Linked DNA regions of Homo sapiens. The protein of the gene in region 1 purifies or fractionates together with the protein of each later gene. This does not show direct contact. Each region holds a gene or a part of one and is shown on either strand. Other genes may lie near its edges. The genes, in order: PARL and MARCHF8.

What was found.
Region 2: the proteins of PARL (region 1) and MARCHF8 purify together in Homo sapiens (affinity purification with western blotting, with the first as the bait; one study listed by BioGRID). This does not show direct contact.

What each region holds. Positions count from the first base shown.
Region 1 is NC_000003.12:183,843,307-183,847,129, reverse strand, and holds part of PARL (presenilin-associated rhomboid-like protein, mitochondrial isoform 1 precursor), read left to right. Parts: intron 1-2,803; coding exon 2,804-2,899; intron 2,900-3,823. UniProt on the Homo sapiens protein: Required for the control of apoptosis during postnatal growth. Essential for proteolytic processing of an antiapoptotic form of OPA1 which prevents the release of mitochondrial cytochrome c in response to intrinsic apoptotic signals.
Region 2 is NC_000010.11:45,483,105-45,486,927, reverse strand, and holds part of MARCHF8 (E3 ubiquitin-protein ligase MARCHF8), read left to right. Parts: intron 1-3,823. UniProt on the Homo sapiens protein: E3 ubiquitin-protein ligase that plays several important roles in innate immunity and adaptive immunity.

The DNA.
Region 1 (3,823 bases):
CAGTACTGCCTCAGTAGGCCTAGGATTGCCACACATCCTCTCATGCTCATCCGCTTCTGGGGACCAGCATATGCTGTTTCCCAGCAAGGAAGCCGTTTTTATGTGGTGTCTGAAGTCCTAGAGTGACCAAGGTCAAAATAAATCCTCCTGGCTACCCATGTCTTGATGTATAGTAGAAAGAGCACTAGATTAGGAATTCTGGCTTGGCCACTGAATTTGGCCCTCTGACAACTTGTACCTTTTAGAGCCTGTTTTTCTCATCTATAACTGGCCTTCAGAATAGGGTTTACAAAGAAGAAAGTATGTGCATTTCACTTTTCTTATTTCTTTTAAATTTGTTAAGTGTGTCTTATGAATTTATAGTGGTTCACGTACATAATTTGTTAATAAGTATACATATATGGGATGTGTCTGTTACTAATGGATGGTGTTTACTAATGGGGTGCCCCATGAAAGCAGTTTGATGACCACTGGCTTATGAAGTAAGGGATTTTGGCTACAGTCTGTTTCAGTGCCAGTACTCATTATTTATCAGAAAAGCTTCTTGCGTTTGGATTGAAAACTTAGCAGTGTTAACTCTTTGTCTACTGTTAACCTCAATGTCTTTGGTTATCTTTCCCCCCGCTTTTTTTTTTTTTGAGACAGTTTCCCTCTTGTTGCCCAGGCTGGAGTGCAATGGCGTGATCTCGGCTCACCTCAACCTCCGCCTCCTGGGTTCAAGTGATTCTCCTGCCTCAGCCTCCTGAGTAACCGGGACTACAGGCATGCACCACCACGCCCAGCTAATTTTGTATTTTTAGTAGAGACGAGGTTTCTTCATGTTGGTCAGGCTGGTCTCGAACTCCCGACCTCAGGTGATCCGTCCGCCTCAGCCTCCCAAAGTACTGCTGGGATTACAGACGTGAGCCACCGCACCCGGCCTTTATCTTTCATTTTTTTTCATGTATTTTCCTTTATTTTAATCACTTTATCCAGAAACATATCCTCGTCTTGACAGTGCTGTGGTGCCTGTGGTTTCCAGAAGCTGGGTGTGCTGTGTGTCTGTGGTTTGAGGAAGTTGCCCATGGAACTGACAGAGGAAGCAGAGTAGTCGTTGCCATTTTTCAGCCTAGTAGGCAGGATCAGGGACCCCATCTTGCTCTCTTTGCCTTGAACCACAATTAGAATAAAACACCAAAGCCCTGACTGATCATGATCATAGCAATCCGATCTTTATGATCATGGCCAGACCATTCTCAGGTCGTCTTTACCCTAAGATATCAATCACTGGGTATGACAACCTAGACCTAAGGGTGCACTCTGGGTAGTAAAGATGATTAACTCTCCCAAAGGAATCTAAGGAATCCAGAGCAACACGAATCACTGCTCTCTTCCTATAGGGTAAACCTCCCAAGACTCCAGTCCCTGTGAGGAGGCTCTGCCCGCCTGCCCTTCCCAGGGTTCCAGGCTCCACATTGGGAGGTGTACACAGTGCTCTTCGCTCTTCATTGCCTTGTGTATGATCCCTTTTCCCATCTTTGCATAAATGCTGTCCCTCTCACCATCTTTAAAAGAGTTCTGGGTAATTATTTACCAAAGGTGGTATAATGCTGTCACAGTCCCTGCTAGTGAGACATCTGATACAACTGATGGAATCAGTTCAACAAAATGCAGTAAAATTTTATTTAATGTACTACGGAGAAAGAAAAAATGCTACCAGTTATAAGATGCATCCTGATTTCAGATATTAAAATGGAAAAAATGTCTTAAGATCTGTGAAAAATGTAGCTTCCTTTCCCACCTCTCAAGTGGGAGAGCAAAAACTGGACAGACTAGAAATGCCAGGGGCTAGCTGAGAACCTTACAGAATGAGCAACTGCGGAAGCCACAGGTAACACCGAGATGTAGATCAGCTGCCAGGGACAAGACAAAGAATGTTTTCTAAAGTAAATCCTCTTACCAGTATGTTATTGAAATCAGTCCTTATTGGCATCGAAGAAGGTGAAAGTGCTACTTGCCTGTTGCCTACAGAGACTGGAGGAATGACAAATGTTTATTTTAATTCAACAAGTAGAGGAATACCTGCTATGTGAAGGAGTTGTGGCAATTCATAAAATTAATATATTTTTTGAAGTTTGTAGTTTTCAATAATAATTTCTTATCTAAAATGTAACAAGTTAATTATATTATCGAATAAACCTCAATTTCGTAGTACTAACAACATCAACACTTACAGAAAAAGGAAAGTCACTCAACTCCCACATGTAAACAGACTTTAGAAGCAGTTGCAGAGGTTTTCTAAATTATCCCTGAATTCCTATCACATGACTATTTTTCTCAGACATGTTGACCTTCACCTACACAGATGACTCACATATGTTTCCATAAGCTGGCAGTAAGTTTAAGAAGCATACCATGCCCTGAGGAAAAAGAAGTAATGTTAGCTCTTCTACTCTTGGCCAAAGAACCTAATTCTGTATATTACTTCTGTCTTTGGTTTGGCTATTATAGACAATAAATTATTGATCTGATTATAATTGAGAAAAGTAAGCTCTTCTAAAGAAGTAAAATATGGATCTAGGGAAAGGAAGTTAGCTCCCAGAGCATTTACAATTTCCCAGGAATTCTGTGACTTTACCAACCCTAGGCAGTGCTGATACTTTAAAAGCATTCATTTCACTTGCTTTTTTTTGGCTCACCCCCTATCCCCCAGGTATACAGTACTCTTACATAATTGTGGAAGAATCTTACAAGGGGGTAATGTAGATCAGACTTTCCTGCTTTCATTTTTAACCTCCCTAAATTATAAATATTTATTTTGTAGGTATTATAGCTGCAAATGTCCTTGTATTCTGTTTATGGAGAGTACCTTCTCTGCAGCGGACAATGATCAGATATTTCACATCGAATCCAGCCTCAAGTAAGTCTAACTTGTGTGAATTTATTTTAAGGTAGAAATAATATGAAAGAAATATGCTTTAGTTAATGGAAGTGCTGTAAAAAAGACGAATTACCTATCAATAGCTACAAGCAAAATGCAGAGGATAGGCTGTAAGCTCCTTCACTGAGGACAGGGACCTCACCTCTCTTTTTCTTTTTCTTTGTTTTTTTTGAGACGGAGTCTTCCTCTGTTGCCCAGGCTGGAGTGCAGTGGTGCAGTCTTAGCTCACTACAACCTCCACCTCCCAGGTTCAAGTGATTCTCCTGCCTCAGCCTCCCTAGTAGCTAGGATTACAGGTGCCCGCCACCACACCCAGCTAGTTTTTGTATTTTTAATAGAGACAGGGTTTCACCGTGTTGGATAGGCTGTTCTTGAACACCTGACCTCAGGTGATCTGCCTGGCTCGGCTGGAGTGCAGTGGCGTGATCTCAGCTCACTGCAAGCTCCGCCTCCCGGGTTCATGCCATTCTCCTGCCTCAGCCTCCTGAGTAGCTGGGACTACAGGTGCCCGCCACCACGCCCCGCTAATTTTTTTGTATTTTTAGTAGAGACGGGGTTTCAACATGTTAGCCAGGATGGTCTCGATCTCCTGACCTCGTGATCCGCCCGCCTCAGCCTCCCAAAGTGCTGGGATTATAGGCGTGAGCCACTGCGCCCGGCCAATTTACTTTTTATTTTATTTTATTTTATTTTTTGAGACAGGGTCTTGCTCTGTTGCCCAGGCTAGAGTGCAGTGATACGATCTTGGCTCACTGCAACCTCTGCTTCTCAGGCTCAACTGATCCTCCCACCTCAGCCCCCAGGAGCTGGGACTACAGGTGCATGCCACCATGCCCAGCTAATTTTTTTTGTTTTTAGTGCAGATGAGGTCTTGCCATGTTGCCCAGACTGCTTATTTTTTTC
Region 2 (3,823 bases), on another chromosome or scaffold:
TGAGGCAGGAGAATCGCTTGAACCTGGGAGGCGGAGGTTGCAGTGAGCTAAGATCACACCATTGCACTCCAGCTTAGGCAACAAGAGCAAAACTCCGTCTCAAAAAAAAAAAAAAAAAAAAAAGTAGGGTAATAATACAACCTTCAGGGTTGTTCCGAGTCTTGGGATTAACATTTGCATGGAACCATGGGGCAGCTCACCCATTACACTGAGCCAACAAACCTGACTCTTGTCAAAGTTCGTTGAATCCTGGTGACCTTAGGTTGATTGGGCCAGGACAGTTCATTTAATGGTAGCTTTATTATTTATTGCTGAACAATGGAGAACCATACATTATTTTTTCCTTCTTGCATACATTTTTTTTTAGACAGAGTCTCGCTCCGTAGCCCAGGCTGGAGTGCCGTGGTGCAATCTTGGCTCACTGCAACCTCCGCCTCCTGGATTTAAGCAATTCTCCTGCCTCAGCCTCCTGAGTAGCTGGGATTACAGGTGCGTGCCACCACGCCCAGCTAATTTTTGTATTTTTAGTAGAGACAGGGTTTCACTATGTTGATCAGGCTGGCCTCAAACTCCTGACCTCCTGATCCACCCGCCTTGGCCTCCCAAAGTGCTAGGATTACAGGCGTGAGCCACCGTGCCCGGCCCCTTCTTGAATACATTTTTACTGTGTGCTGTTTGCGACTGGACACTTAGTGTGTCCAGTGAGTTCCGGGATGCTTACTATGGTCATTGGAGAGTATCTGAGTGGAGTGAGCCTTTAGAACATTTGATTACTCACAGAACTTCCTGGTTAACCTGTCAACGTGAAATTCTGTTGCAAAGTGTACCCTTTTGTAACGAAGATAGTTAGCATGCTGTATAAGGTGGTTAGACATGAACCAGTTCAGTGGGACCAAGGAAGGGAGGGCAGGCCCCCTGTGGAAGATAACTGTTTTTGAGAAGACAGTTTTTTTATTGGAGTATTTATTAAATGAACCTGCTGTTTGAAGCCAGTTTTAGGCCGTGACATGTAAAATCGTATCTTCAGTATAGCAGACATACTCTTGAGATTAAAGGAGGCCACAATGTGGACATACTGTATGCTACCTGAAATCCCCGTTGTCTCTGTCAGGAGACTTTCTGCTGACTTTTAGACCCCAGCTGGGGTCAGCACATGAGCCAGTCACTGCAGTCTGCTTTATGCTTCTGCAGTTCACCTCTTGCTGGCGTAAATTTAGAGGTTGAAAAGAGGTAAAAAATAAACCTTTAATCATGCCTCCTAGTATTCCATCTAGATTTTATTACAAAGTGTCTCAGTGTGTATTGGAAGCATATTGACTTTAAAAACCAGGCTCCATTTTCAAAGAAGGAAGCAGGTAGGTTGGATGAGATGTTTATGAGGCTGCTAGGTCTGTGGTGGCTTGCCTCTCTTCAAAGTGGGCAGCTGGATTTGATCCCCTTAAGGAGTTAATAGAAGAAGCATATTGGGATATTTAAGCAATTACAATGGCAAAGTCTTCACCCAATACTTATTTTGTATTGATAGTACAATGTTAATGGATATCATTTGTTGAGCCTCTGTTACCAAGGGATTTCATGAAATTTGTCACCTCCAATTAACATCCTAAGGGGTCCAAAGTCACCTTTTCCTTTTATTTTTCAGGATCGCACTTATCACTGCCTGGGTTTTCATGAATTTTTTTCCATTGCACCTTCACCCCACATGTAACCTTCATGAGTGTAGAGCCATGCTTTGTTTACCCCTAAATCTGCAGAACCAGTGATGGGATGGAGCCCTGGAGGTTGTCAGTACATGCTGAGTCAATGTTTGCATGCTGTTCTGCTAGACACTTGATACCCAGCCCATTGGTTCATCCCTCTTCATCATCCCAGCCACTTCCCAGGCCCAGGCCTCCTAAACTCCTGCAGTAGCTTCTCAAGAATCTATCCCAAACCATCTAGCACCCAGTAGCCAGTAAGTAGAATTCCTAATGCTTCTCTTTTCAATTCTTCAGTGTTTCTGATTACACTACCTTGAGCTGTCACATCTAAGGTGACCTGGGCCTGGCCACTTGGAACCTGATCCTGTGCAATATCCCCTTGGTCATGATGATCTAGGTATGGTGTCTACCTTGATGATTTTCAAACAAGCCAAATTCCTATTTGCGCACCTTTTGTTCTGTCCGAGAGGCCTCTCCCAATCTTACCCCTTTTTTGCATGAATGGCTAAAATTCCTAACTCATTTCTCTTTCAGTTCTTAGCTTCTTTAGAGGCACTTACCCTTGACACCCTCCCCTTAGTCTAAATTTTATCACCCATTTGGGTTTTGTTACTCTTTCTTCATAGCACCTATCACAGTTTGTAATGATAGCAGTGTGTAGAAAATCTTATATTTTTAGAAGCAGCAGAATGTCCCCCCTTGGAAAAAAATCTGTTTAATTGACTGGGTGCTTGGAGAAGTTTGAGGCAGTTTGAGTCCCACAGGTGACATGCTTTATACAAAGACGGGCACTGGAATGCAGCCCCCATGAAATCGCCATGCATCTTGCCCAGACCTTCACCTCACCGCAGGGTCCTTGACCATGTGGGCCCACGAGCCATCCTGGAGGATGTTCCCCAGATGCCCCATCCACACTCAGTCCTCACCCTATGTACTTCCCTTGCTGCTGTTTGCTTAATCATTTTCTAAAGAACAAACTCAAAGTTTTATATCATTGTGTAGTATCTGAAATCACATTTGATTGGTTTTCTTTTTTTAGTTTATTTGTACATATTTATGGGGTACCTCTGATATTTTGTTACATGCATAGACTATGTAATGATCAAGTCAGGGTATTTGGGGTGTCCCTCACTGTGAATATTTATCATGTCTATGTGTCAGAAACAATTTAAACCTCTCTTCTAGTTATTTTGAAGTATATAATATATTGTTAACTGTAGTCACCCTACTCTGTTGTTATTGAACATTAGAACTTATTGTGACTATCTAACTGTATTTTTGTACCCATTAACCAATCTCTCTTTATCCCCCACTCCTGCCTCCATGCACACCCTTCCCAGCCTCTAGTACCTATAATTCTACTTTCTACCTCCATGAGATCAAATTTTTATAGCTCCCACATGTGAGTGAGAACATGTAATATTTGTCTTTCTGTGTCTGGCTAATGACCTCCATCCATGTTGCTGCAGATGACATGATTTCATTCTTTTTGTATGGCTGAATAGTATTTCATTGTGTATATGTGTCACGAATTCTTTACCTGTTTGTCCATTGATGTGGACACTTAGGCTGATTCCATATCTTTTGCGAACAGTGCTACAATAAACATGGGAGTACAGATATCTCTTTGATAATACTAATTTGTTTTCCTCTGGGGAAATACTCTGTAGTGAGATTGCTGGATTATATAGTAGTTCTATTTTTAGTTTTTTGAGGAATTCCCATACTATTTTTCATACTGGTTGTACTAATTTGCATTCCCACCAACAATACATAAGAGTTCCCTTTTCTCTGCATCCTCACCAACATCTGTTATTCCCTGATGATTAGGGATGCTGAGCAGTTTTTCATGCAGCTGTCGGTCATTTACATGTCTTTTTTTGAGAAATGTCTAGTCATGTCCTTTGCCCACTTTTTAATGGGATTGTTTGTGTTTTTAATGTTGTTTGAGTTTCTTACATATTCTGTATGTTAGTTCCTTGTTCGATGGGTAGTTTTCACATGTTTTCTGTCATTCAACAGGTTGTGTCTTCACTCTGTTGATTGTTTCCTATGCTGTGCAGAAGCTTTTCAGTTTAATATAGTCCCTTTTGTCGGTTTTTGGTTTTGTTGCCTATGCTTTG